6 separate regions of the Homo sapiens genome follow, and regions 1, 2, 3, 4 and 5 are each linked to region 6. The links come from fine-mapping of genetic effects on gene expression. A gene starts in region 6. Each other region holds a variant in brackets. All regions are shown on one strand. Distances are between the middles of the regions. Region 1 overlaps LOC102725238 (a long non-coding RNA gene). Region 2 overlaps EZH1 (enhancer of zeste 1 polycomb repressive complex 2 subunit). Region 3 overlaps LOC102725238 (a long non-coding RNA gene). Region 4 holds the start of CAVIN1 (caveolae associated protein 1). Region 5 has its middle 21 kb from the start of TUBG1. Region 6 holds the start of NAGLU (N-acetyl-alpha-glucosaminidase).

Region 1 (4,869 bases), 96 kb before region 6:
GGCTAGGCTGGTCTTGAACTACTGACCTCAGGTGATCTGCCCACCTCGGCCTCCCAAAGTGCTAGGATTACAGGCATGAGCCACTGTGCCCGGCCAAAAAATTCACTTTTAAAACGTTTAAATTATTTTAAATTTACAGTGTTTTTTTTTTTTTTTTTTTTTGAGATGATGTCTTGCTCTGTCGCCCAGGCTGGAGTGCAGTGATCTTGGCTCACTGCAACCTCCACCTCCCGGGTTCAAGCAATTCTCCTGCCCCAGCCTCCTGAGTAGCTGGGATTACAGGTGCATGCTGCCACATCTGGCTAATTTTTTTGTATTTTAGTAGAGATGGGGTTTCACCATGTTGCCCAGGCTGGTCGTGAACTCCTGAGCTCAGGCAATCTGCCCGCCTCGGCCTCCCAAAGTGCTGGGATTACAGGCGTGAGCCACCGCTCCCGGCCCAGAATTGTTTTTTAAAGTACAAAAGTATTATTTCTTCATGAACTATTTGCAAGTAAGTTGACAACCTGACAAGTTTTATCACCCCCAAATACTTTAGTGTGTATTTTCTCCAAACACACATACATAACCACATAGACAACATACATTTTGTAACCATAATACAATAATCAGTATCAGGAAATTAATCCTCAGCAGCTGATAAAATTTCACCATTTATCCCAATAATGTCTTTTATGCATAAACGATCCAATTAGACGTAATGCTTAGCAGTTACTGCATCGTTTTAGTATCCTTCAGTCAGGGAAATATTCTTTCTTTGGCTTTCATAACCTTGACACTTTTGATGATCATAGGACAATTAATCTGCAAAATGTTGCTCAGTTTGGACTTGTCTGATGTTTCCTCATGATTAGATTTAGGAAATGTATTATCTTTAGCAGGAATAGCATGAAAGGGATGCTGTGCTCTCATTGCATCCTGTCAGGTGGTACACAATTTTGATTTCCCCATTACTAGTGATGTTAGCCTTGATCATTAGGTTAAGGTGGTATCTGCCAGACTTTTCCAGTGTCAGGTTATCTTTTTTTTTTTGAGATGGAGTCTCCCTTTGTTGCACAGGCTAAAGTGTAGAGGCACGATCTCGGCTCACTGCAACCTCCACATCCTAGTTTCAAGTGATTCTCCCACCTCAGTCTCCCAAGTATCTGGGATTATAGGCAAGCGCCACCACCCCTGGCCAAATATATATATATGTATATGGAGAGATAGAGAGAGAGAGAGAGAGATGAGGTTTTGCTATGTTGCTTAGGCTGGTCTAGAACCTCTGGGCTCAGGCCGGGTGCTGTGGCTCAAGCCTTTAATCCCAGCATTTTGGGAGGCTGAGGTGGGCAGATCACTTAAGGCCAGGAGAGACCAGCCTGGGCAACACTGGCGAAACCCCGTCTCTACTAAAAATACAAAAACTAGCCAAGTGTGGCAGTGCACACCTGCAGTCCCAGCTACTCAGGAGGCTGAGGCAACAGAATCACTTGAGCCTGGGAGGCAAAGGTTGTAGTAAGCCTAGATGGCGCCACTGCACTCCAGCCTGGGCAACAGAGGAGACTCCATGACAAAAATAAATAAATTAATTAAATTAAATTAAAACAATAAATAAAACCCCTGGGCCCAAGTGATCCTCCTGCCTCGGCCTCCCAAAGTGCTGGGATTACAGACGTGAACCACCTCACCTGGCCCTATTTATTTATTTATTTATTTGAGATGGAGTCTTGCTCTGTCCCCCAGGCTGGGCTGGAGTGCAGTGGCACAATCTCGGCTGACTGCAACCTCTGCCTCCCGGGTTCAAGCAATTCTCCTGCCTCAGCCTCCTGAGTAGCTGGGATTACAGGTGCACACCACCATGCCCAGTTAATTTTTGTATTTTTAGTAGGGACGGGGTTTCACCATGTTGGCCAGGCTGGTCTCAAACTCCTGACCTCAAGTGATCTGCCCTCCTTGGCCTCCCAAAGTGCTGGGATTACAGCCACTGTGCCCAGCCCTTATTTATTTTTTTGAGACAAAGTCTCACTCTGTCGCCCAGGCTGGAATGCTGTGCCATGAACATGGCTCACTGCAGCCTCAACCTCCTGGGCTCAGCAATCCTCCCACCTCAGCCTCCCAATTAGCTAGGACTACAAGTACATGCCACCTTACCTGACTAATTTTTTGTGTTGTTTTTTTTTTTGTAAAGACAGGATTTTTTTTTTATTTTTTTATTTTTTGTAGAGACAGGATCTCCCAGGCTGGTCTCAAATTCCTGGGTTCAAGCAATCCTCCGGCCTTGGCCTCCCCAGCTGTTGGGATTACAAGTGTCAGCCACTATGCC[C/A]GGACTATTTAAAAAAAATTTTTTTGGAGAGTTTTCTGGTAAAAACTGGAAAACCTGCTAGACGGATTCTAAAAGAGCTGTAATACTTGATTTCTTTGACATTTTAATTTTTAGTCTGAAATTTTCATTTCCAAATTTTCAATTTCTATGCACAAAATTCTTTTTTTTTCTTTTTTTTACAGTTTTTCCTCCTCTGCTGAGGTTTCTTTTTTTTCCTTTTTTTTTCTTTTTGAGATGGAGTCCCACTCTGTCGCCCAGGCTAGAGTGCAATGGCGTGATCTCGGCTCACTACAACCTCCACCTCCCCGGTTAAAGCAATTCTCCTGCCTCAGCCTCCCGAGTAGGTAGGATTACAGGCACCCGCCATCATGCCCGGCTAATTTTTGTATTTTTGTAGAGATGGAGTTTCACCATGTTTGCCAGGCTGGTCTTGAACTCCTGACCTCAGGTGATCTGCCCAAGTTGGCCTCCCAAAGTTCTGGGATTACAGGCAGGAGCCACTGCGCCCGAGTGGAAAGTTCTAAAATTAATTGTGGCTATGGTTGCACAATTCTGTGAGTATTAAAAATTGTTGACTTGTACGCTTTAAATGGGTGAGTCGTATGGTATATGAATTATATCTCAATAAAGCTATTACAACAAAAGATTCAGCAGTTTTCAAAATAGAACATATATATACTTTTTTTTCCTTTTCTTTTTTTTTCTTTTGCAGAAACAGGAACTATGTGTCCCAGGCTGGTCTCAAAATCTTGAGCTCAAGTGATCTTCCTGACCCAGCCTCCCAAATCGCTGGGATTACAGGTGTGAGCCACCATGCCTGGCCTGAAAATAGAATATTTGGAAATAAAATGATAAATTCAATAAATGAAATCCCCAAGATTGGAGGAGACCCTAAACTGAATGAAAACAGAAATTAACTCATGTTACAAATGAACAACAAAACTGTACTGAAGGAGAAGTGGTATGGGAATAGCAATTATGACATTATATTGTGCATATTATAGAATTAAGCAAATGACATATAAAAGAATGTGGAAGCTAGAGTTCTCACTGTAGGAAAAAAGTAGATTTAAATATGAATTAGGGAATACAAAGGAACCTTAGATGGGTGGAACTGGTGTTAGAGGCATCAGTATAAACCCATAACTTCATATACATTTGTAGAGATAGAGCTAGAGGTTTGGCCTCTGTGTGTTGAAGGCTTAGAAGCAATAACACAATGTAACAATGAGCAGGCTTGGTACCAAGATCTTGGTTTCTAAATATTATTCCTCACAACAAAGAAACAGCTTCTTAGAGAAATGGATGACTTCAGGGCTGGAACAAGGAAAGTATAAGCTAAGCTTAAAATATCCTATTGTGATAGAAATTAAGGAAGTCCCCTGCCACCCCCAACACCCCAGCAAAATGATGGGAATATGTCAAAAAACACAGGAGGAAGTTCCAATTATGGCTGAGTAATTCCCATCACACCAAGTCTTCTGTAAATAAGAATGATATACTCAGAGCAAAATATTAAAGAACAAACAAAAACTACCTGAAGGCATTAGCAAACAACAGGAGGAATATACTGCACAGAGGTGGATACCTGGAAGAGAAGAGGACTGAATGGGTTTCCTGTGTTTTTACAGCTTTTAGTCTAAGGGAAGTCCAAAGTCTGCAAAGTGAGTGGTTAAAACAAAGCTGGGGGTAGTGGTGTGCGCCTGTAGTCTCACCTACTCAGAAGGCTGACGTGTGAGGAAACCGTGAGCACAGGAGTTCAAGGCTGTAGAGCACTAAGATTGTGCCTGTGAATACCCACTGTATTCCAACCTAGGCAACACAGTAAGACCTCATCTCTTTTTTTTTTTTTTTTTTTTGAGACAGAGTTTCACTCTGTTGCTCAGGCTGGAGTACAGTGGCGTGATCTCAGCTCACAGCAACCTCTGCCTTCCGGGTTCAAGTGATTCTCCTGCCTCGGTCTCTTGAGTAGCTGGGACTACAGCTATTTTTAGTAGAGACAGGGTTTCACCATGTTGCCCGGGCTGGTCTTGAACTCCTGACCTCAGGTGATCAGCCCATTTCAGCCTTCCAAAGTGCTGGGATTACAGGCATGAACCACTGTGCTCGAGATCTTATCTCTTAAAACGACGACAACAACAACAAAAACAAAACAACAAAAACCCAAACCCTGCAGTCTTACTAGCTTGAATTGTTCAGGGCAACCCCAGCAGGTGGAAATAATGGGAGGAAATCCTATCAAAATAAGAGCCACAGAGAGGGAGGCTCAAATTCTGTGCATAAACTATAGTCCCAGCTACTCGGGAGTCCCAGTACCTGTAGTCCCAGCTACTTGGGAGGTTGAGGTGGGAGGCTCGCTTAAGCCCAGAAAGTCAAGGCTGTAGTGAGCTGTGATGATGCCACTGCACACCAGCCTGGGTGACAGAGTGAGACCCTGTCTCAAAAAAAAAAAAAAAAAAAAAAATTCAGAACTTTAAAAAATCACCCTGAAAAGAAACCCCATGCCCTTTTATTATTTTTTTCACTTTTTTGACTTTATTATTTTTTCTTTAAAACAATATTTATTC
Region 2 (4,869 bases), 190 kb after region 6:
TGAGCCAAGATCACGCCACTGCACTCCAGCCTGGCGACATAGCGATACTCCGTCTCAAAAAAAACAAAAACAAAATTTTAAAAACAACTTAATAAATTCAGAGTTTTGTAACATCATCTCCTAAAAGGAATCCCTAGACTGCAAACTTGTGGAAAGTAGAAACTCTTTTTTTTTTTTTGAGACAGGATCTCACTCTGTTGCCCAGGCTGAGTGCAGTTGTGCAATCACAGCTCACTGCAGCCTCTGCCTCCCAGGCTAAAGCCATCCTCCAACCTCAGCCTCCCGAGAAGCTGGGATTACAGGCATGTGCTACTACATCCAGTTAAACAGCTAATTTTTCTTTTTTTTTTTTGTAGAGACAGGGTCTCGCTATATTGCCCACGCTGGTCTCCAACTCCTGGACTCAAGCAATCATCCTGCCTTAGCCTCCCAAAGTGCTGGGATTACATGTGTGAGCCACTATGCCCAGCCAAAAGAAGGGACTCTTATTCACCTTTGTGTCCTCTATAGAGTTCAGCACAGTACTTCCCATACTCAGCTGATGTTTACCTCAGCTCAAACTGTTGGTCTACCTGGGTTATACACAACAGTAAAGAGCCTCTGAAAGTCCTAAAAGATGAGGAAGTTTTCTGAAGACCTAAACTTTAAGACAGTGGACATCAACTTAGCTGCATAGGTGATAGGGATAGTACATGGAGAAGCAAAGTGGTATAGAAATTATAGTAACATTCTGCTTCAGGAAAGATATTTGCTCTCAATACACTATCTGCTTTTCGTTTTTTGTTTTGAGACAGGGTCTCACTCTGTCGCCCAGGCTGGAGTGCAGTTGCACGATCTTGGCTCATTGCAACCTCCGCCTCCCAGGTTCAAGCAATTCTCCTGCCTCAGCCTCCTGAGTAGCTGGGATTATAGGTGCACGCCACCACGCTCGGCCAATTTTTGTATTTTTAGTAGAGACAGGGTTTCACCATGTTGGCCAGGCTGGTCTTGAACTCCTGACCTCAGGTGATCCACCTGTCACAGCCTCTAAAAGTGCTGGGATTACAGGCATGAGCCACTGCACCCAGCTTCTGCTTTTTTTTTTTTTTTTTAAGAGACAGTCTCTTTTTTTTTTTTTTTTTTGAGACGGAGTCTCGCTGTCGCCCAGGCTGGAGATCATAGCTCACTGCAGCCTTGAACTCTTGGGTTCAAGTGATTCTCCCACCTCAGCCTCCCGAGTAGCTGGGATTATAGGCATACACTACCATGCCTAGATAATATTTACTTTTTATATTTTAAAAATATTATCTATTTCCCAGGTGTTGGAGGTTACAGTAAGCTATGATCATGACACTGCACTCCAGTCTGGGTGACATAGTGAGATCTTGTCTCTAAATAATAATAATGATAATTTATTTTCATAAAGTTTCTTTTTTTTTGGAGATGGTGTTTTGCTCTTGTTGCCCAGGCTGAAGTACAATGGTGCCATCTCAGATCACTGCAACCTCCACCTCCCGGGTTCAAGCAATTCTCCTGCCTCAGCCTCCCTAGTAGCTGGGATTACAGAAGTGTGCCACCATGCCTGGCTAATTTTTTTGTACTATTAGTAGAGATGGGGTTTCACCATGTTGGCCAGCCTGGTCTCAAACTCTTGACCTCAGGTGATCCACCCACCTCGGCCTCCCAAAGTGCTGGGATTACAGGTGTGAGCCACCGCGTCCAGCCAAAGTTTCTTAACTAGAAAATTCTTTTATTTATTTATTATTTATTATTTTTTTTGAGACACAGTCTCACTCTTTCACCCAGGCTGGAGTGCAGTGGTGTGATCTTGGCTCACTGCAACTTCTGCCTCCTAGGTTCAAGAGGTTCTCAGGCCTCAGCCTCCCAAGTAGCTGGGATTATAGGTGTGCACCATCACACGCAGCTAACTTTTGTATTTTTAGTAGAGACAGTGTTTCGCTATGTTGGCCAGGCTGGTCTCAAACTCCTGGCCTCAAGTGATCCATCTGCCTCAGCCTCCCGAAGTGCTGAGATTACAGGTGTGAGCCACTGCGTCCAGCCCCCGTAATTATTCTTGAAGCTGCAGATTTACTATCTTAATTATTCAAAGTTGACTAAAATAGCTGTATCTATTAACCTTAACCTTATTTATTTATTTCCTTTCTTTCCTTTTTCTTTTTTGGACATAAGGTCTTGTCTGTCAACCCAGACTGGAGTGTTGTGGTGAAATCATAGTTTATTTCAGCCTTGAACTTCTGGGCTCAAGAAATCCTTCCACCTCAGCCTCACAAGTAGCTAGGACTACACCACCATGTCTGGCTACTTTTT[T/A]AAAAAATTTTTTAGAGACACAGTCTATGTTGCCCAGGCTGGTCTCAAACTCCTCACCTCAAGCGATTTTCCCACCTCAGCCTCCCAAATAGCTGGGAATACTTGTGTGAGCCACCATACCTTGTCTTACTTATTCACTTTCTAAAAAGTCACAAATATAGGAAAAAGCTTTAAGCCCAAGGAAGAGAGGAAGACTGAGCTTAAACTCCCAAAAGTACCTTTTTGAGAAAAGGGTGTCCACTCACAGGCTTCATTGACTGAACAGGTTGGACACGAAGCTTCTTCCATTCTTCATTGAGGATCTGGGTTTTTTCTTGAACCTTTGCAAAATTTGCCACATACAAAGCCTAGCAAAGCCATGGAAAAGATTAAGATATATTGTTATTTTATTAATTAATTAATAATTTATTTTTTTGAGATGGAGTCTTGCTCTGTTGTCACCCAGGCTGGAGTGTAGTAGCGCGATCTCAGCTCACCACAACCTCCGCCTCCCGGGTTCAAGCGATTCTCCTACCTCGGCCTCCCAAGTAGCTGGGATTACAGGCACAGACCACCACACCTGGCTAATTTTTGTATTTTTGGTAGAGACAGGGTTTCACTATGTTGGCCAGGCTGGTTTGAAACTCCTGGCCTCAAGTGATCTGCCTGCCTCAGCCTCCCAAAGTGCTGGAATTACAGGCATGAGCCACCGTGCCTGGCCTTTTTTTTTTTTTTTGAGATGGAGTCTTGCTCTGTCACCCAGGCTGGAGTGCAGTGGTGCCATCTCGGCTCACTGCAACCTCTATCTCCTGGGTTCAAGCAATTCTCCTGCCTCAGCCTCCCAAGTAGCCGGGATTACAGGCATATGACACCACGCCCGGCTAATTTTTGTATTTTTAGTAGAGACGAGGTTTCACCAGGTAGGACAGGCTGGTCTCGAACTCCTGACCTCAGGTGATCCACCTGCCTTAGCCTCCCAAAGTGCTGGGATTACAGGTGTGAGCCACCGCACCTGGCCCTGTTACGATTTCAAAACAAAAGTTAAAAAGAAATTCCAACCCCTGGGCCAGGCGCGGTGGCTCACACCTGTAATCCCAGCACTTTGGGAGGCTGAGGCGGGCGGATCACGAGGTCAGGAGATCGAGACCATCCTGGCTAACATGGTGAAACCCCATCTCTACTAAAAATACAAGAAAATTAGCCGGGCGTGGTGGCAGGCGCCTGTAGTCCCAGCTAATCGGGAGGCTGAGGCAGGAGAATGGCGTGAACCTGCGAGGTGGAGCTTGCAGTAAGCTGAGATTACGCCACTGCACTCCAACCTGGGTGACAGAGTGAGACTCTGTCTCAAAAAAAAAAAAAAATTCCAACCCCTTTACACTGGGTCAGTATATTGAAATATATAAACTTTCACTTGGGAATTATTTTTTACCTTTGCACCCATATTTGCCTGAAGCCGTTTAAGTTGTCGAAGTCGCATGTATTCAGATTTCACTTTTCTTTTCCAGTAAGTGATACATTTGGAGGTAGGGGGATTTGGTATTTCCATCTTGCTGTAATCTAAGAGAGACAGAGATGAGAAATAGCATTTTATTGCCTGGAAATAAAGCATTCCTCAAATACAAAAAAAAAAAAAAGATCAATTATGCTTTCATTCCCATTAAATTTACTCATAAAAACACACATTTAAAGAACCCAAATGTGTGAGTTCAACAGAAAGTTTCAATTTAAAAAAAAGAGGCAGGGGCTCACACCTGTAAAACCAACACTTTAGGAAGCCGAGGTGAGAGCACTACTTGAGCCCAGTGATTTGAGACAACCTTGGGCAACATGGTGAAACCCCATCTCTACAGAAAATACAAAAGTTAGCCAGATGTGTTGGCCAGTGCCTGTAGTCCCAGCTACTCAGGAGGCTGATGTGGGAGGACTGCTTGAGCCCAGGAGGTCAAGGCTGCATTGAGCCGTGACCACGCCACTGCACTTCAGCCTGAGTGACAGAGTGAGACCTTGTCTCAAAAAACAAAACAAAACAAAAAAACAAAAAACAACAAGAAGTCCAGGCACGGTGGCTCACGCCTGTAATCCCAGCACTTTGGGAGGCCAAGGTGGGTGGATCTTCTGAGGTCAGTAGTTCAAGACTAGCCTGGCCAACATAGTGAAACCCCGTCTCTACTAAAAATACAAAAAAAAAAAAAAATTAGTCGGGCATGGTGGCTTGTGCCTGTAATCCCAGTTATGTGGGAAGCTGAGACACGAGAATTTCTTGAACCTGGGAGGTGGAAGTTGCAGTAAGCCGAGATCGCACCACTGCACTCCAGCCTGGGTGACACAGTGAGACTCCATCTCAAAAAAGAAAAAAAAAAAAGTCCGGGCATGGTGATTCATGCCTGTAATCCCAGCACTTTGGGAGGCCAAGGTGGGTGGATCACGAGGTCAGGAGTTCAAGACCAGCCTGGCCAAGATGCTGAAACCCCGTCTCTACTAAAAATACAAAAATTAGCTGGATGTGGTGGCACACGCCTATAATCCCAGCTACTCAGGTGGCTGAGGCAGGAGAATGGCTTGAAACCGGGAGGTGGAAGTTGC
Region 3 (4,869 bases), 87 kb before region 6:
CAGTGAAACCCCGTCTCTACTAAAAATACAAAAAAAAATTACCCGATGTGGTGGCGGGCGCCTGTAGTCCCAGTTACTCGGGAGGCTGGGGCAGGAGAATGGCGTGAACCCGGGAGGCGGAGCTTGCAGTGAGCCGAGATCGCGCCACTGCACTCCAGCCTGGGTGACAGAGCGAGACTCCGTCTCAAAAAAAAAAAAAAAAAAAAAAAAAAAAAAAAAAAAAAAAAGAAAAAGAAAAAAAAAGAAGAAATAATGGCAGAAAATTCCTCAAATTTGACAAGAGACCTAGAACTACAAGTTCAAGAAGCTGAGAAAACCACAAACATGATAAACTCAAAGAAATCTATACCAGGACACGTAATAATCTAACTCCTGAAAACTAATAACAAAGAAAAAATCTTGACAGCAGTAAGAGAAAAACATCTTTCTCATAAGGGAAAAACAGATTGAACCACAATAGATTTCTCACCAGAAACTAAAAAAGGCCAGAAGAAAGTGGCACAACTTTTTTCAAATGCTAGAAGAAAAAAACTATCAAAGATGAAAGAGAAATCAACACATTTTCAGATGAAGAAAAACTAAGAGAATTTGTCATTTGTAGATCTACCCTTTAAAAAAGTGGCTAAAAGGGGGCCGGGTGCAGTGGCTCATGCCTGTAATCCCATCACTTTGGGAAACCGAGGCAGGCGGATCACTTGAGGCCAGGAGTTTGAGACCAGCCTGGCCAACGTGGCAAAACCTAGTCTCTACTAAAAATACAAAAATTAGCCAGGCATAGTGGCACATGCCTGTAGTCCCAGCTACTCTGGAGGCTGAGGCAGGAAAATCGGTTGAACCTGGGAGGTGGAGGTTGCAGTGAGCAGAGATCGCACCACTGCAATCCAGTCTTGGTGACAGGGCAAGACTCCATCTCAAAAAAAAAAAAAAAAAAGCTAAAGGAAGTTCTTGAAAAGAAAGGGAAATGATAAAAGAAGGGACCTTGGAACATCAAGGATGAAAAAAGAACGTGGAGTGGCCCACACTTGTAATCCCAGCACTTTGGAAGGCCGAGGCGGGCGGATCACGAGGTCAGGAGATCGAGACCACGGTGAAACCCCGTCTCTACTAAAAATATAAAAAATTAGCCGGGCGTGGTGGCGGGTGCCTGTAATCCCAGCTACTCAGAGAGGCTGAGGCAGGAGAATGGCGTGAACCCGGGAGGCGGAGCTTGCAGTGAGCTGAGATCGCACCACTGCACTCCAGCCTGGGTGACAGAGCGAGACTCTGTCTCAAAAAAAAAAAAAAAAGAAAGAAAAAAGAACGTGGAAAGCAAATATATGAGTAATTGCAATATACTTTCCTTCTTGTATTAGTCATCTAGGGCTTCCATAACAAAATACTGCAGACTGGGTAACTTAACCAACAGAATTTATTTTCTCACAGTTCTGGAGGCTGGAAGTCTAAGACCAAAGTGTTGGTAGGTTTGGTTTTTCCTGAGGCCTCTTTTCTTGGCCTGTAGATGGCCACCTTCTTGCTGTGTCCTCCCATGGCCTTTTGTCTGTGTGTGACCACTCCTGGTGCTTTTTCCTCTTCTGAAAAGGACACTGGGCCGGGCGTGGTGGCTCACCCCTGTAATCCCAGCACTTTGGGAGGCCAAGGCAGGCGGATCACCTGAGGTCGGGAGTTCGAGACAAGCCAACATGGAGAAACCCCATCTCTACCGAAAAAACAAAATTAGCCGGGCTAATCCAACAGGACTGGTGTCCTTTTTTGTGGGGGGGGACGGAGTCTTGCTCTGTTGCTCAGGATGGAGTGCAGTGGCACAATCTCAGCTCACTGCAACCTCCACCTCCCAGGTTCAAGTGATTCTCCTACTTTAGCCTCCCGAGTAGCTGAGATTACAGGCATGTGCCACCACACCCAGATAATTTTCTTTTTTTTTTTTTTAGTAGAGACGGGGGTTTCAACATGTTGGCCAAGCTGGTCTCAAACTCCTGACCTCAAGTGATCCTCCCACCTCGGCCTCCCAAAGTGCTGAGATTACAGGTGTGAGCCACCAAGCCCGGCTGGTGTCCTTTTTTTCTTCTTTTCTTTTTTTTTTTTTGAGACGGAGTTTCACTCTTGTTGCCCAGGCTGGAGTGCAATGGCGTAATCTCGGCTCACAGCAACCTCTGTGTCCCGGGTTCAAGCAATTCTCCTGCCTCACCTTCCCGAGTAGCTGGGATTACAGGTGTGTGCCACCACTCCTGGCTAATTTTTTTGTGTTTTTAGTGGAGACAGAGTTTTGCCATGTTGGTCAGGCTGGTCTCAAACTCCTGACCTCAAATGATCTGCCCATCGTGGCTTCCCAAAGTGCTGGGATTACAGG[A/C]GTGAGCCACCGTGCCCGGCCCTCATTTAATCTTAATTACATCTTTAAAGGCCCTGTCTCCAATGTACAGTCACAATAGAGGTTAGGGATTCAACATAGGAATTTGGGAAGACACAATTCAGTCTATAACACTTCTCCTCCCTCTCCCTCTCCCTCTCCCTCTACCCACGGTCTCACTCTCCCTCTCCCTCTCCCCACAGTCTCCCTCTCCCTCTCTTTCCACGGTCTCCCTCTGAGGCCGAGCCGAAGCTGGACTGTACTGCTGCCATCTCGGCTCACTGCAACCTCCCTGCCTGATTCTCCTGCCTCAGCCTGCCGAGTGCCTGGGATTGCAGGCGCGCGCCGCCACGCCTGACAGGTTTTCGTATTTTTTTGGTGGAGACGGGGTTTCGCTGTGTTGGCTGGGCTGGTCTCCAGCTCCTAACCGAGAGTGATCCGCCAGCCTCGGCCTCCCGAGGAGCCGGGATTGCAGACGGAGTCTCGTTCACTCAGTGCTCAATGGTGCCCTGGCTGGAGTGCAGTGGCGTGATCTCGGCTCGCTACAACCTCCACCTCCCAGCCGCCTGCCTTGGCCTCCCAAAGTGCCGAGATTGCAGCCTCTGCCCGGCCGCCAACCCGTCTGGGAAGTGAGGAGCGTCTCTGCCTGGCTGCCCATTGTCTGGGATGTGAGGAGCCCCTCTGCCTGGCTGCCCAGTCTGGAAAGTGAGGAGCTTCTCTGCCCGGCCGCCATCCCATCTAGGAAGTGAGGAGCACCTCTTCCTGGCCGCCATCCCATCTAGGAAGTGAGGAGCGTCTCTGCCCGGCTGCCCATCGTCTGAGATGTGGGGAGCACCTCTGCCCCGCCGCCCCGTCTGGGATGTGAGGAGCGCCTCTGCCCGGCCGTGACCCCGTCTGGGAGGTGAGGAGCGTCTCTGCCCAGCCGCCCCGTCTGAGAAGTGAGGAGCCCCTCCGCCCGGCAGCCGCCCCCTCTGAGAAGTGAGGAGCCCCCTCCACCCGGCAGCCACCCCGTCTGGGAAGTGAGGAGCGTCTCCGCCCGGCAGCCATCCCGTCTGGGAGGGAGGTGGGGGGTCAGCCCCCGCCCGGCCAGCCACCCCGTCCGGGAGGGAGGTGGGGGGTCAGACCCCACCCGGCCAGCCGCCCCATCCGGGAGGTGGGGGGCACCTCTGCCCAGCCGCCCCTACTGGGAAGTGAGGAGTCCCTCTGCCCGGCCACCACCCCGTCTGGGAGGTGTACCCAACAGCTCATTGAGAACGGGCCATGATGACAATGGCGGTTTTGTGGAATAGAAAAGGGGGAAAGGTGGGGAAAAGATTGAGAAATCGGATGGTTGCTGTGTCTGTGTAGAAAAAAGTAGACATGGGAGACTTTTCATTTTGTTCTGTACTAAGAAAAATTCTTCTGCCTTGGGATCCTGTTGATCTATGACCTTACCCCCAACCCTGTGCTCTCTGAAACATGTGCTGTGTCCACTCAGGGTTAAATGGATTAAGGGCGGTGCAAGATGTTTTTGTTAAACAGATGCTTGAAGGCAGCATGCTCATTAAGAGTCATCACCACTCCCTAATCTCAAGTACCCAGGGACACAAACACTGCGGAAGGCCGCAGGGTCCTCTGCCTAGGAAAACCAGAGACCTTTGTTCACTTGTTTATCTGCTGACCTTCCCTCCACTATTGTCCTATGACCCTGCCAAATCCCCCTCTGCAAGAAACACCCAAGAATGATCAATAAAAAAAAAACAAAACAACAACAACAAAAAAAACACTTCTCCTCTTGAGTTTTCTCAATTATGTTTGATGGTTGAAGCAGACTGTGTAACATTGTCCAATGTGGTTTGCAAAGTATGTTGAGGAAATATTTAAGACAATTATGTTGTAAATGGGAAAGTAAAAAGACTAAAATGGAGGTAAGAGTTTTATACTTCACTCAAGCTGATAAAAATATTGACATCAGTTGGCCAGGCACAGTGGCTCACGCCTGTAATCCCAGCACTTTGGGAGGCCGAGGCAGGTGGATCACCTGAGTTCAGGAGTTCAAGACCAGCCTGGTCAATATGGTGAAACCCTGTCTCTACTAAAAATACAAAAGTTAGCCGGGCATGGTGGCACATGCCTGCAATCCCAGCTACTCAGGAGACTGAGGCAGGAGAATCGCTTGAATCTGGGAAGCAGAGGTTGCAGTGAGCCAAGATTGCGCCACTGCACTCCAGTCTGGGCGATAGAGAGAGACTCCGTCTTAAAAAAAAAAAAAAAAAAGAAAGAAAAAAGAAAAAATATTGACATCAGTTGACTGTGATAATTTATATATGTATAATATGAAACCCATTACAACCACTTAAAAAATCTACACAAAGAGATACACTCGGGCCAGGCGCGGTGGCTCACGCCTGTAATCCCAGCACTTTGGGAGGCCGAGGCGGGCGGATCATGAGGTCAGGAGATTGAGACCATCCTGGCTAACACGGTGAAACCTCGTCTCTACTAAAAATACAAAAAAATTAGCCGGGCGTGGTGGCGGGCACCTG
Region 4 (4,770 bases), 110 kb before region 6:
CCATGGCTACCCGGAGCCGTGCGGGACCGGCCGGGTGGGGCTGGAGCTGGAGCGGGAGACCCGGAGAGAAGCAGGAGCGGAAGGGAGGAGAGCTAGCGGGCGAGAGCGGAGAGCAGAGGAAACTCGAGCCACGTCCGTGCGCACCGGGACAGCGGCCAGAACTGCTGGGCGGGGGATCGGTGAGCTCCCCAGCTCCCGGGCCAAACTCCGGAGTCTGATCGCTGATTGGCTGGCCCCACCCCAGAAAGGGAGGGACCGGGGCAGAAGGGGAGATCGACGAGGCGGGGCGGCGGAGGGGGACCCAAGAGCCGAGCGCCCCACCCTTCCCGGGATGGTTGGAATAGTTGGAGCGGGAGACTAGGGCCTCCGCTGGCGGCGGGAGCGGGACGGGCGGAGGAATGCGAGCTGAGGAACGGAATCAGGTTCTAAGAGTGTTGCTCTCTGTTTCCCTCTCACTTGAATTGCTCATCCGAAAATCCTCAAGATCTGGGAGCCGGGTGGACCAGGAGATTCTGAAATTATAGGCAAAATCTTGTATTTGCCTTTACCTAGATTTTGAGCACAAAAGGACCCTTGCCCTTTACAATATTTTCTAAGAGGCCTCTCGGATTTCCTCATCACCAACCCCAACCAGGTTACTAACTCAGGGGTAAGCTTAGGGGGTTGTTTGTGGGGGGCGGGGGGAGAAAGAGAGAACGTATTTGGGGTCACGGTGGTGGTGAAGGGCTGCGAAGCTCCTCTAAGTTCTTTTTAGAATTGCCCTAACAGAGTAGAATTAAGATGGGCAATCAAACGGAAAATAAAGCCCACCTCCCAACCCCCCTTTCTGAGACAGGGTGTCACTCTGTCACCCAGGCTGGAGTGCAGCGGTCTGATCACAGTTCACTGCAGCCTCGACCTCTTGGGCTCAGGCAATCCTCCCACTTCAGCCTCCTGAGTAGATGAGACTATAGGCGCTTGCCACCACGCCCAGCTAATTTCAATTTTTATTTTTTTCAATTTTTATTTTTTTAAGAGACGGGGTGTACACTATTTTGACCAGGCTGGTCTCGAACTCCTGAGCTCAAGTGATCTGCTGGTTTCAGCCTCTCAAAGTGCTGGGAGCCACCGCGCCTGGTGTAAAGCCCTTTTTAAAAGCCCACCTCTCTTAGGCCAGGCGCGGTGGCTCATGCCTGTAATCCCAGCACTTTGGGAGGCCCAGGCGGGTGGATCACGAGGTCAGGAGTTCAAGACCAGCCTGGCCCAAGATGGTGAAACCCCGTCTCTGTTACAAATACAAAAATTAGGCCAGGCGCAGTGGCTCATTTTGGGAGGCGGAGGTGGGTGGATCACCTGAGGTCGGGAGTTCGACCTCAGCCTGACCAACATGGAGAAACCCCATCTCTACTAAAAATACAAAATTAGCCAGGCGTGGTGGCGCATGCCTGTAATCCCAGCTATTCGGGAGGCTGAGGCAGGAGAATCACTTGAACCCGGGGGGCAGAGGTTGCAATGAGCTGAGATTCGCGCCATTGCACTCCAGCCTGAGTGGAATTCTACAGAGTAGAATTCCTCTTTTTTCCAAAAGCTTTTTCAATCCTTAGTAGAAGGAATTTAAATTACTTTAATACATTTCTCCTAAATTCTAAAGTAAGTTGGTAATCTGCCAGTTGGTAATCCACTGTCTGAGTGCAGACAGAGTGAGACTCTGTCTCAAAAAAACAAAAAAAACAAAAACAAAAGCAACCCACAAACCCACGTCTCACCTCTCTCTAAAACTCACCTTTCCCTGTGTTCCCCCTCCCACCGCCCCCTCAGAGGCAGCTGACACCAATCTCAGTGAGCAGGATCTAGGAGTCCATTTCTCTTTCAAGATTCCAGGGACTAACAGTAAGCCATCGGAGAGACCATCAAATCCCACCCCCTCATTTGACAGACAGGAAAAGGAAAGCCTGCAGAAGACAGGTGGCTTGCCAGAGATCACTCGCAGGTTAGTGTTGGCATTGGCACTTGAACCCAGGTCTGGACTCCTGCTTTCATGCTCTTTCCACCTTCTGCTCTAAGCCTTCCACTGGGGCAGGGAGACAGGCACCCACAGCCACTCCCCAACTCCCATGTGCTGTTTCAGAAGATTAACCAAAGCATATTTTCATCCATGCTGGGTACAAGGGAGCAGGCAATTCTGAGCAGGCCCAAGGAGGGTCCTTAGTGCAGAAAGTCCAGAAATAGGGAGGCTGCCCATCCTCCCCCATTTTGCTGTCTAGCACAGCACTGGTGCTGTGAGTGTCTGAAGTGGCGCCAGCTCCCTTTCCCACAGAAAAGCGGCAACCCTTTTCCCTCCTTAGGAAACCACACTTGGGTTTCCCCAGCTGGCTGGATGATGGTCCTGGCAAAAGGTCACTTCTAGTCTGGTATCCATTATCATTAGGAAGAGTGAAAAACTGGTCTATGGGGACCCAGGGCCTCCTCAACCCAGACAGAGAACCCAC[A/C]AACTCAGAAAGGAGACCGACAGTGCAGGGACTGGGTTAGTGCCCTAACAACATTGTAGGGTTTTTTAAGGGTTTACAACACCATATTTGTTATCCGAAATTCTCATAGAAAATGGAGCCATCAACTAGGGCTGTTTATCAGGTTATCCTGAAGTACTGTTTCTGCTAGAAAGGCAAGATACGTGGTTACTGGTAACCTCTTTTTTTCCTTTTTTTTTTTTTTTTTCTTGAGATGGAGTCTCACTCTTTTGCCAGGCTGGAGTGTAGTGGTGCAGTCTTGGCTCACTGCACCCTCCACTTCCTGGGTTCAAGCGATTCTTCTGCCTCAGCCTCCCGAGTACCTGGGACTACAGGCACGCACCACCACACCCAGATAATTTTTTTTTTGTATTTTTAGTAGACACGGGGTTTCGCCATGTTGGGCAGGATGGTCTCAATCTCTTGAGCTCGTGATCCACCCACCTTGGCCTCCCAAAGTGCTGGGATTACAGGTGTGAGCCACTGTGCCCCGCCTTTTTTTTTTTTTTTTTAAGACAGAGTCTCACTCTGTTGACCCTGCAGCCTCGAACTCCCGGGTTCAGGTGATCCTCCCACCTCAGCCTCCCAAATAGCTGTGACTATAAGCGCACACCATCACACCCAGCTAATTTTTGTATTTTTTGTAGAAATGGGGTTTCACCGTGTTGCCCACGCTGGTCTCAAACACCTAGGCTCAAGGGATCCACCTGCCTTGGCCTCCCAAAATGCTAGGAATACAGGCGTGAGCCACTTCGGCTTTGTGTTTTTTCCAACTTTTTTTTTTTTTTTGAGACAAGGTCTTGCTCTGTCATGCAGGCTGAGTGCAGTGGCACAATCACAGCTCACTGCAGTCTTGACCTCCTGGACTCAAGTGATCCTCCCACCTCACCCTCTCAAGTAGCTTGGACTACAGGTGTGCCACCACACCGGGTACCCTAACACTTCAATAACTGTTTTCTCACAAACAAATGGCTTTCTCATTTGAGGCTCAAGTAGAATTAAGCTAGTATATAAGATCATATATACACATATAACTGCTAGAACTGGCAGATTACCAACTTACTTTAGAATTTAGGAGAAATGTATTAAAGTAATTTAAATTCCTTCTACTAAGGATTGAAAAAGCTTTTGGAAAAAAGAGGAGTGACAGTAGAGAACCTTATAGGACCTTCATTTCTTAAGTGTCCCATAAGATCCTTAGATGATGATGATTATTATTATTATCATTTTTTTTTTTGAGATGGAGTCTCTCTCTGTCACCCAGGCTAGAGTGCAATGGCACAATCTCGGCTCACTGCAACCTCCACCTCCCGGGTTCAAGCGATTCTCCTGCCTCAGCCTCCCAAGTAGCTGGGATTACAGGTGTGTGCCCCCATGCCCAGCTAATTTTTTTTTTTTTTTGAGACGGAGTCTTGCTCTGTTGCCCAGGCTGGAGTGCAATGGCATGATCTCAGCTCACTGCACCTTCCGCCTCCTGGGTTCAAGCGATTCTCCTGCCTCAGCCTCCCAAGTAGCTGGGACTACAGGTGCCTGCCACCACGCCTGGCTAATGTTTTGTATTTTTAGTAGAGACGGGGTTTCACCATGTTAGCCAGCATGGTCTCGATCTTCTGACCTCATGATCCGCCTGCCTCGGCCTCCCAAAGTGCTGGGATTACAGGCGTGAGCCACTGTGCCTGGCCTCGCCCAGCTAATTTTTTGTACTTTTAGTAGAGACGGGGTTTCACCAGGTTGGTCAGCCTGGTCTCGAACTCCTGACATCAGGTGATCCACCCACCTCGGCCTCCCAAGGTGCTGGGATTACAGGCATGAGCCACAGCACCCGGCCTCTAAAAAATTTTATCTCTATCCCAGCAACTAGTTTCTTTTCCAGGAGACATCAATTATTACTATATTCTCTTTTTTTTTTTTAGGTGGAGTTTTGCTCTTGTTTCCCAGGCTAGAGTATAGTGGCACCATCTCGGCTCACTGCAACCTCTGCCTCCCGGGTTCAAGCAATTCTCATGCCTCAGCCTCCCAAGTAGCTGAGATTACAGGCATGTGCCACTACGCCTGGCTAATTTTTGTATTTTTAGTAGAGAAGGAGTTTTACCATGTTGGCGAGGCTGGTCTTGAACTCCTGACCTCAGATGATTCACCCACCTCGGCCTCCCAAAGTGCTGGGATTACAGGTGTGAGCCACCATGCCAAGCCTATTATTACTATTCTCTTGCGGAATCTTCTATAGACTATTTCTGCATATATGATCATACATATATATATTTCAGCACTTTCCTGTTTTCAG
Region 5 (4,869 bases), 95 kb after region 6:
GTCTTTTCTGTGTTCCTCCTTCTCCCTTCTTGTCTTTCTCTCTCTCTCTCTCTCTCTCTCTGTCACACACACACACACACACACACACACACACACACACACACACTCCAGCTGTCAGTAGAAGAGCCAGAGTCAGCACCTTGAGGCCTCCTGGAGCAGAGATTTTCTGGAAAGTCTTCAGGGAAGACTCTGCTGAGCTCAGTGACAATTGCCACCCGGCCACTGGCCAGATTACATTTCCTGGGTCACTTTGACCTTCTCAAAGGCCGCAGCCACCATTGAGCTGGTATTCGCTCATGCTGACATCCTACTCCAACCCTCTCTGCCTCATCAAATACAGCCTTGATTTTGGTACAAGCCTAAATGCTCATCATATGCACACATATGCTGGGGTTACCACCAGCCTTCCCCAAACTATGCCAAAAATGATTCTATACATCTCACAAAGATTCATCATGAACACAATTGAAGGCCTATGGATCCTCGGGATAGGGAAAGATCTCCCTGCCCTTCCATAGAATTGGGACTTCTTGTGTTCTAGCCTTTCCCAGCTATGGGAAAAACAACCAAGGTGGCTTCTCTTGTCTACAAACATGGACCCACCATTCCTAAGGTACAGCATTAGCAAGAAAAACAAAACTAAGGAATTAAAAAAATAAAACTCTGAAGATAGACGAAAGAGTCAACTCTTTTTTTTTTTTTTTTTTTTTTTGAGATGGAGTCTTGCTGTATCACCCAGGCTGGAGTGCAGTGGCGTGATCTCTGCTCACTGTAACCTCCGCCTCCCAGGTTTGAGTGATTTTCCTGCCTCAGCCTCCCTAGTAGCTGGGATTATAGATGTGCATCACCATGCCCAGCTATTTTTGTATTTTTAGTAGATGAAGTTTCACCATGTTGGCCAGGCTGGTCATGAACTCCTGACCTCAGGTGATCCACCTGCCTCGGCCTCACAAACTGCTGGGATTACAGGCATGAGCCACTGTGCCCAGCCGACAGAGTCAACTTTTGATGCTGTGAATTGTCACGTGAATTTCTCCTTTGTTTTTTGAGACAAGGTCTCACTCTGTCATCCAGGCTGGAAGGCAGTAGCAGGATCATGGCTCACTGCAGCCTCAACCTCCCAGACTCAAGCAATCCTCCTACCTTAGCCTCCCAAGTAACTGGGACTACAGGTGCACACCACCACACCTGTCTAATTTTTTTATTTTTTGTAGAGACAGGGTCTCACTATGTTACCCAAACTGGTCTGAAACTCCTGGGTTCAAGCAATTCTCCTTCCTTGGCCTCCCAAAGTGCTGGAATTACAAGTGTGAGCCACTGTGCCCAGCCATTAATTTTAATTCTGTCAATAACCTGTGATCAAAATTTTATTCCAAGATCCAGCTCTGTTCTGGCTTCTTACTATGTGTTTCCCAGCAATGTAATGTAATTAAAATGTTATCATAACCTGTCTCTCAGAATGTTGTTACTACATTTGTGATCTTGGGCAGGTCACTTCCTGTCCCTGGGCCTCAGTTTCATCATTCTGTTGCTCAACAAATATGTATTGAGTAGCTAGTAAGTTCCAGGCATTGTGCTAAGTGCTGAAGACAACAAAGATGAGCAAGATATAGTATGGCTGAAGAATTGCTCATTCCATTGTTTATGTGTTAATGTAAATAACTCATCATGTACCTGTGTGATTAGGGCTATAATGAAGGTTGGACAAGGTACGAGAGAAAAACTGGAAGGGGAACACCTGTGTCTGATGGGGGTTAGGGGTTTGTAAAATAAGGGGTTCGGCTTCTAGAGGAGTCTGTTATTCTAAGATTGTGATACATTCAAAAGGACACAGAGTCCATTTAGATATTCTGTTTCAGGGAAATGTGTACAATACCAGCCCTCTGCTAGTGCAGATAAGGAGTTTACCATTGGCACCAATACCTCTTTTTCAAGTTGAGTAGAAGCCAGATTCCTATTATCAGTCGTTTGCATTACTCAATTCTAACAATCACTTGGGAACATAAATAATACTTGGTAAAATTAATTCTTTTCCAATACAAATGAAAGAAACATATCACATATACTTGTGCCATACATACGCTTAACCAACAAACACATCATCTGGGGAAGAAAAAGCAAACCCAGACACATATAAAATGAAATCATCGTAAGGTTTCATTTTATTTATTTATTATTATTATTTTTTGAGACAGAGTTTCGTTCTTGTTGTCCAGGCTGGAGTGCAGTGGTGCGATCTCAGCTCATTGCAACCTCCACCTCCCAGGTTCAAGTGATTCTCCTGTCTCAGCCTCCCGAGTAGTTGGGATTACAGGCATGCGCCACCATGCTCAGCTAATTTTGTATTTATAGTAGAGACAGGGTTTCACCATGTTGGTCAGGCTGGTCT[C/T]GAACTCCTGACCTCCGGTGATCCACCTGCCTTGGCCTCCCAAAGTACTGGGATTACAGGTGTGAGCCACTGCGCTTGGCCTAAGGTTTCCTTTTAAAATACAATTTTTTTAATAACATAGAGACGGGGTTTCACCGTGGTGCCCAGGCTGGTCTTGAACTCCTAGATTCAAGCAGTTCACCTACTTTGGCCTCCCAAAATGCTGGGATTACAGGCATAAGCCACTGTGCCTGGCCCATCATAAGGTTTTCTTTCAAACAAAATCAGAAGTAAAATGTTATTGATTTGTTACTGCCAGGAACTCAACATGCACCCTGCGATGCTGTTGAACTAAAGTCTGCTAACTGTGGCTTACAAATAATTGAAGCACCAGCTAATACTATTTAAATCCTTAACTAGTGAAATAAAGAGTTATGAATTCCTAAAAGGCCAATATTTATTTTTTTGTAGTGACAGGGTCTTGCTGTGTTGCCCAGTCTGGTCTAGAACTCCTGGCCTCAAGTGTTCCTCCTGCCTTGGCCTCACAAATATTGGGATTACAGCCATGAGCCACCATGCCCGGCCCTCATTCCATTAGGCTTATATAAATATAATGATTCGTGTTAAACATTTTGTGTTTAGGATGGGCACAGTGGCTCACACCTACAATCCCAGTACTTTGGGAAGCTGAGGCAGGAGGATTACTTGACCCCAGTAGTTGGAGACCAACTGGACAACATAGCAAGACCCTGTCTCTAAAAAAAAAAAAAATACAAAAATTAGCCACATGGCCCAGCGTGGTGGCTCACACCTGTAATCCCAGCACTTTGGGAGGCTGAGGCAGGCAGATCACTTGAGGTCAGGAGTTCAAGACAAGCCTGGCCAACATGGTGAAATGCGGTCTCTACTAAAAATACAAAAATTAGCTGGGCATGTTGGTGCATGCCTGTAATCCCAGCTACTTGGGAGGGTGAGGCAGGAGAATCGCTTGAACCTGGAAGGTGGAGGTTGCAGCACTACACTCCAGCCTGGGCAACAGAGTGAGACTCTGTCCAAAAAAAAAAAAAAAAAAATTAGCCAGGTATGGTGGCATATGCCTGTAGTCCCAGCTACTTGGGAGGCTGAGGTGGGAGGATCGCTTGAGTCTAGGAGGTCAAGGCTGCAGTGAGTTATAATTGCACCATAGCATTCCAGCTGAGACCCTGTTCCTCCATCAGAAAAAAAAGGAAAGAAAGATTTTTAAAAATTTAAAAATTGTGCTTAAGAAGACATCTCAATGGTTGCACAATCTTAATGTATTTAATACTACTTAACTGTATGTTTAAAAATAGTTAAAATCTGTAATCCCAGTGCTTTGAGAGGCTGAGGCAGAAGGATTACTTGAGCCCAGGAGTTCCAGACCAGCCTGGAAAACATGGCAAAAACCCATATCTGGAGAAAACAAAAATACAAAACAAAAAATACAAAACAAAACAACCCATGGCGAAAACAAAAAAATACAAAAATTAGCCAGGTATGGTGGCACACACCTGTAGTCCTAGCTACTTGGGAGGCTGAGGCAGGAGGATTGTCTGAGTCCAGGAGGTTGAGGCTACAGTGAGTCATGATTGTGCCACTACACTCCAGCCTGGGCAACAGAGCAAGACCCTGTCTCAAAATAAATAAATAAATAAATAGTTTAAAATCGACTAGCTTGGGCAACATGGAAAAACTCTGTTTCTACAAAAAAATAAAACACACACACACACACACACACACACACACACACACGAAATTAACAGGTCGTGGTGGCACACACCTATAATTCCAGCTAACCAGGAGGCTGAGGTGGGAGGATCACCTGAGCCCAAGAAATCAAGGTTCCTATGATCATGCTACTACTGCACTTCAGCCTGGTCAGCAGAGAGAGAGATCGTGTCTCAAAAAAAAAAAAAAAGTTAAAAAGGTTAAATAGTAAATTTTATGTTATATGTACTTTATAAGTTTTTTTAAAAAATAAACAATTTTTAATTAAAAAATGTAACTGATGGCCAGGCATGGTGGCTCACGCCTATAATCTCAGCACTTTGGGAGGCCGAGGCAGGCGGATCATGAGTCAGGAGATCAAGACCATCCTGGCTCACACTGTGAAACCCCGTCTCTACTAAAAACACAAAAAATTAGCTGGGCGTGGTGGCAGGCGCCTGTAGTCCCAGCTACTTGGGAGGCTGAGACAGGAGAATCCCTTGAACCTGGGAGACAGAGGTTGCAGTGAGCAGAGATCGCGCCACTGCACTCCAGCCTGGGTGACAGAGCAAGACTCTGTCTAAAAAAAAAAAAATGCAACTGACTTATTTATATGGACTATATATCCCATAACCTTTCTAAACTCCCTTATTAGTTCTAAACTCCCATATTAGCTTTTTTTTTTTTTTGGTACATGCCTTAGGATTTTCTATGTACAATTATGTCTTCTGTAAATAATAGTTTTATTTCTTCCTTTCAAAAATAAAAATAGAAAG
Region 6 (4,704 bases):
TAAACATTTCAAGATTTATTGATTTTTTTTTTCACTTTCCCCATCACACTCACAGGCACGCTCACACTTTTTATTTGCCGTAATGAACCGTCTAGCCCCTGTGGAGATCTCCTATGAGAACATGTGTTTTCTGATAACTCACAACCCTACCAATGCTACTCTCAACAAGTTCACAGAGGAACTTAAGAAGTATGGAGTGACGACTTCGGTTTGAGTTTGTGATGCTACATATGATAAAGCTCCAGTTGAAAAAGAAGGAATCCACGTTCTAGATTGGCCATTTGATGATGGAGCTCCATCCCCTAATCAGATAGTAGATGATTGGTTAAACCTGTTAAACACCAAATTTCGTGAAGAGCCAGGTTGCTGTGTTGCAGTGCATTGCGTTGTGGAATTGGGAAGGGCACCTGTGCTGGTTGCACTTGCTTTGATTGAATGTGGAATGAAGTACGTAGATGCAGTTCAGTTTATAAGACAAAAAAGAAGGGGAGTGTTAAATTCCAAACAGCTGCTTTACTTAAGATGCGATTACGCTTCAGAGATACCAATGGGCATTGCTGTGTTCAGCAGAAAGAAATGTAAATGAAGGCTGACTTGATTGTGGCATTTAGAGGGAACTCCTGGTACCTGGAAATGTGAATCTGGACTCTTACCTGTGTCATCAAAGTAGTGATGGATTCAATACTCCTCAACCACTCTCCTAATGATCAGAACAAAAGCAAACAAGAAATCTCTCTATAAAATGAATAAAATGTTTAAGAAAAAAAAAGAGTTCGAGACCAGCCTGGACAACATGGTGAAATCCCATCCCTACAAAGGTTAACTGGGCTTGGTGGCACGTGCCTGTAATCCCAGCTACTCAGGAGACTGAGACAGGAGAATGGCTTGAACCTGGGTGGCTGAGGTTCCCGTGAGCTGAGATTAAAAAAAAAAATCATACTTCCCTAGTATCTAAAGTTGATATCTGATTCCAGGCCTCTTTCAACTTTTTTTGTTTGTTTGTTTGTTTTTTTGATATGGAGTCTCGCTCTGTCATCCAGGCTGGAATGCAAATGGCACGATCTTGGCTCACTGCAACTTCCACCTCCAGCGTTCAAGCGATTCTCCTGCCTCAGCTTCCCAAGTAGCTGGGACTACAGGCGTGTGCCACCAAGCCTGGCTAACTTTTTTTCTTTTTTTTTTTTTTGAGAGGGAGTCTTGCTCTGTCCCCCAGGCTGGAGTGCAGTGGTGTGATCTTGGCTCACTGCAACCTCCGCCTCTCCGGTTCACGCCATTCTCCTGCCTTAGCCTCCCGAGTAGCTGGGAGTACAGGCGCTCGCCAACACGCCCGGCTAATTTTTTGTATTTTTAGTAGAGATGGAGTTTCACCGTGTTAGCCAGGAGGGTCTTGATCTCCTGACCTCGTATCCGCCCGTCTTGGCCTCCCAAAGTGCTGGGATTACAGGCGTGAGCCACCGCGCCCAGCACCTGGCTAACTTTTGTATTTTTAGTACAGACGGGGTTTCACTGTATGTTGGCCAGGCTGGTCTCAAACCCCTGACTTGAGGTGATCTGCAAGCCTCAGCCTCCCAGAGTGCTGGGATTACAGGCGTAAGCCACCGCTCCTGGCCTAAGGTTGGCTATTTTTATGGTTATTTCTTGATTATATGATAAACAAGGGGTGGGTTAGTAATGAATTTTTCAGAAAAGGGGTGGGGATCCCCCCCAACTGAAGGTTCCTCCACTGTTTAGACCATATAGGGTAACTTCTGGACGTTGCCATGGCATTTGTAAACTGCCTGGCGCTGCTAGGAGTGTCTTTAGCATACTAATGCATTATAATTAGCGTATAATGAGCAGTGAGGACGATCAGAGGTCACCTTCCTGTCTTGGTTTTGGCAGGTTTTGACCAGTTTCTTTGCTGCATTCTGTTTTATCAGCGGGGTCTTGTGACCTTTTATCTTGTGCTGACCTCCTGTCTCATCCTGTGACGAAGGCCTAACCTCCTGGGAATTCAGCCCAGCAGGTCTCTGCCTCATTTTACCCAGCCCCTGTTCAAGATGGAGTCGCTCTGGTTGGAAACTTCTGACAAAATGACAGCTCCTGTTATGTTGCTGCTGCTGCCGCCAATGGACAGCCTTTAACGTGCCCGCCAGCCCTGCTCCACCGCCGGCCTGGGCTCACATGGCCCCATCCCTCCTCGAACCTCCTAGCCTGTTAGTTACTCAAATCTGCAAGCTCTCTGCCTTCTCAGGGCCTTCAATAAATGCATTTCTTCTGTCTGGAAGGCTCTTCCTTTCCCTCTTCTAGCCAATTCCTATTCATCCCTGAGTTTCAGATTAAAAGTCACTTCCTTTGGAAACCTTACTTCGCTACTTCGCTACTTACTGCACTACTTCGCAGCATCACAACTATGATGGAAATCCTTACTTACGTTAAATATCTGGTTTCTAGGTCACCTCCCTGACGGGGACGGTAGGGACCGTCTTCTCGTTCATCAGTAGGGAAGTAGCTATGGCAGTGCCTGATACAAAATAAACTCCAAATGTGTATTTATTAGATGGTTGGATGGAAGTTATTTGCGTGTGAAAGCGCGTTTTACCCGAAGGCGCTCTGTGAGGGCCAGCGGGTCCCCTTCGGCCCTGGAGCCGGGGTCACACGCTCCCCACCGCGTGCGGTCACGAGACGCCCCCAAGGGAGTATCCTGGTACCCGGAAGCCGCGACTCCTGGCCCTGAGCCCGGGCTTAGCCTTCGGGTCCACGTGGCCGGAGGCCGGCAGCTGATTGGACGCGGGCCGCCCCACCCCCTGGCCGTCGCGGGACCCGCAGGACTGAGACCATGGAGGCGGTGGCGGTGGCCGCGGCGGTGGGGGTCCTTCTCCTGGCCGGGGCCGGGGGCGCGGCAGGCGACGAGGCCCGGGAGGCGGCGGCCGTGCGGGCGCTCGTGGCCCGGCTGCTGGGGCCAGGCCCCGCGGCCGACTTCTCCGTGTCGGTGGAGCGCGCTCTGGCTGCCAAGCCGGGCTTGGACACCTACAGCCTGGGCGGCGGCGGCGCGGCGCGCGTGCGGGTGCGCGGCTCCACGGGCGTGGCGGCCGCCGCGGGGCTGCACCGCTACCTGCGCGACTTCTGTGGCTGCCACGTGGCCTGGTCCGGCTCTCAGCTGCGCCTGCCGCGGCCACTGCCAGCCGTGCCGGGGGAGCTGACCGAGGCCACGCCCAACAGGTACCGCCCCGAAGCTTCCCCGCGTCCGCCCGAGGCGCTTACCCCCTCCCGGAGCCGCTGCCACCCAAATCGGGAGGCTGAGCGGGGAGCGCTGGCCGGAAGGCCCAGCTGCGCCGCCTCCAGCAGCTGTGTGGCCTTGAGCCAGCCACTCTGCCTTTCAGAGCCTCGGCTGGCCCACCTGAAAAACGGAAAGAAGACGCCTACCGTGCAGTGTTATTGTGAGGATTTGCACGATGATGGGCATAGAATTTGTGGTGCACAATTGGTGATGAGTGAATTTTCTTGCCTTCCTCCCCCACCTTCTCTTTGAACCTGCGGACTGAGGAAGGACGCCTCCATCCCCCACCCTACAGGCCTGTGTTCCAGCGCCTGCCACACTATGGAGTGATGTGTTCACACAGCTGTCCTCCCCTGCCCATCTGTTAGACTGTGGGGGCAGGGATTCCCCGTTCCAGGAAAACACCGTGCAGAGGAGGGGCTCTGGCAGTGTGGCATGAAAGTGGAATATGCCACCCAAATACCCGCCAGGCTAGAGGGCCCTGGGAGAGTGCAGGGGACGAGTGCCTCAGAAGCCCAGCCCCGGTACCTGGTCTCAGCTCCACCTGGGGTGGGTCCCAGTGTGCAGCAGAAGGGCCGAGTTTGGAGCCCCTCCCCTCTCCTCTAGGTGGGGGATGGGGGATTTGTTCCAGGGCCGTGGACCCTCCAGGGTGGGATGCGCCCCTGCTCATGACACTGCCCGCAGGTACCGCTATTACCAGAATGTGTGCACGCAAAGCTACTCTTTCGTGTGGTGGGACTGGGCCCGCTGGGAGCGAGAGATAGACTGGATGGCGCTGAATGGCATCAACCTGGCACTGGCCTGGAGCGGCCAGGAGGCCATCTGGCAGCGGGTGCGTGCCCACTGTCCCTTCCCCACCCTCCTCTATGGCGGGAGCCACCGTAGGTGTTTTCACCCGCCCCCCAGCATGGGCGCAGTGTCTCTCTCTAGAAGTGCTTTCAGCGTGCACAGTGGCTTGGGCCTCCTAAAAACTGAGGCTTCCGGCCGGGCGCGGTGGCTCACGCCTGTCATCCCAGCACTTCGGGAGGCCTAGGCGGGCGGATCAGGAGTTCAGGAGATCGAGACCATCCTGGCCAACATTGTGAAACCCCGTCTCTACTAAAATACAAAGAAATAGCAACCTGGGCAACAGAGCGAGACTCTGTCTAAAAAAAAAAAAAAAAAAAACTGAGGCTTCCAGTTTGAGGAGTGGGGCTCCTTCCCCCATCTCCCCTATGCAGCCAATCACCTGGTCCCTTGGATCCAACTCATGGGCAGCTCTAGATCTGCCTCCCTGGAAGCTTCTGTGCTGCAATGGCTGCTCCAGGCTCTGCTTAAGCTCTTCACACAGTTGCCCTGCCCTTCCATCTGGCACTCTTGCTCCATGAAGCCTTCTAAGGCCTTCCTGTTGGGGGAAAGCCCCTTTGTGCCCCATCTCCTCACCCATGCGACAAAGGCAACACAGT

Evidence for each region. PIP is the estimated chance that this variant, and not a neighbour inherited with it, causes the effect.
Region 1: its variant is the best candidate, but not a certain one, in a credible set for the expression of NAGLU in whole blood (INTERVAL, PIP 0.89).
Region 2: its variant is the best candidate, but not a certain one, in a credible set for the expression of NAGLU in esophagus mucosa (GTEx, PIP 0.80).
Region 3: its variant is the best candidate, but not a certain one, in a credible set for the expression of NAGLU in whole blood (TOPMed, PIP 0.66).
Region 4: its variant is the best candidate, but not a certain one, in a credible set for the expression of NAGLU in whole blood (INTERVAL, PIP 0.56).
Region 5: its variant is the best candidate, but not a certain one, in a credible set for the expression of NAGLU in T cells (TOPMed, PIP 0.62).

Annotation. Positions count from the first base shown.
Region 1 is chr17:42,437,870-42,442,738 of GRCh38, forward strand. The region is part of intron 3 of LOC102725238 (a long non-coding RNA gene); the gene reads left to right. It also overlaps the pseudogene RNU7-97P. Among named protein-coding and RNA genes, the nearest start is that of CAVIN1, 17 kb to the left of the region's middle. The variant C/A (reference allele first, on the strand shown) is at 2,303.
Region 2 is chr17:42,725,110-42,729,978 of GRCh38, forward strand. It overlaps EZH1 (enhancer of zeste 1 polycomb repressive complex 2 subunit), which reads right to left. Exons shown (of 21, transcript NM_001991.5): 3 at 3,716-3,843; 4 at 2,526-2,654. The coding sequence starts at 3,832. Among named protein-coding and RNA genes, the nearest start is that of EZH1, 17 kb to the right of the region's middle. The variant T/A (reference allele first, on the strand shown) is at 2,308.
Region 3 is chr17:42,445,954-42,450,822 of GRCh38, forward strand. It overlaps LOC102725238 (a long non-coding RNA gene), which reads left to right. Exons shown (of 4, transcript XR_007065758.1): 4 at 2,548-4,304. Among named protein-coding and RNA genes, the nearest start is that of ATP6V0A1, 10 kb to the right of the region's middle. The variant A/C (reference allele first, on the strand shown) is at 2,348.
Region 4 is chr17:42,423,094-42,427,863 of GRCh38, forward strand. It overlaps CAVIN1 (caveolae associated protein 1), which reads right to left and starts at 163. Exons shown (of 2, transcript NM_012232.6): 1 at 1-163. The coding sequence starts at 4. LOC102725238 (a long non-coding RNA gene) reads left to right here and starts at 95. Exons shown (of 4, transcript XR_007065758.1): 1 at 95-179; 2 at 1,798-1,969. The variant A/C (reference allele first, on the strand shown) is at 2,469.
Region 5 is chr17:42,627,982-42,632,850 of GRCh38, forward strand. No RefSeq gene overlaps it. Among named protein-coding and RNA genes, the nearest start is that of TUBG1, 21 kb to the left of the region's middle. The variant C/T (reference allele first, on the strand shown) is at 2,390.
Region 6 is chr17:42,533,455-42,538,158 of GRCh38, forward strand. NAGLU (N-acetyl-alpha-glucosaminidase) reads left to right here and starts at 2,787. Exons shown (of 6, transcript NM_000263.4): 1 at 2,787-3,201; 2 at 3,944-4,091. The coding sequence starts at 2,819. It also overlaps the pseudogene PTP4A2P1. RefSeq lists enhancers at 2,500-2,579, 3,093-3,830 and silencers at 2,690-3,099, 3,220-3,289.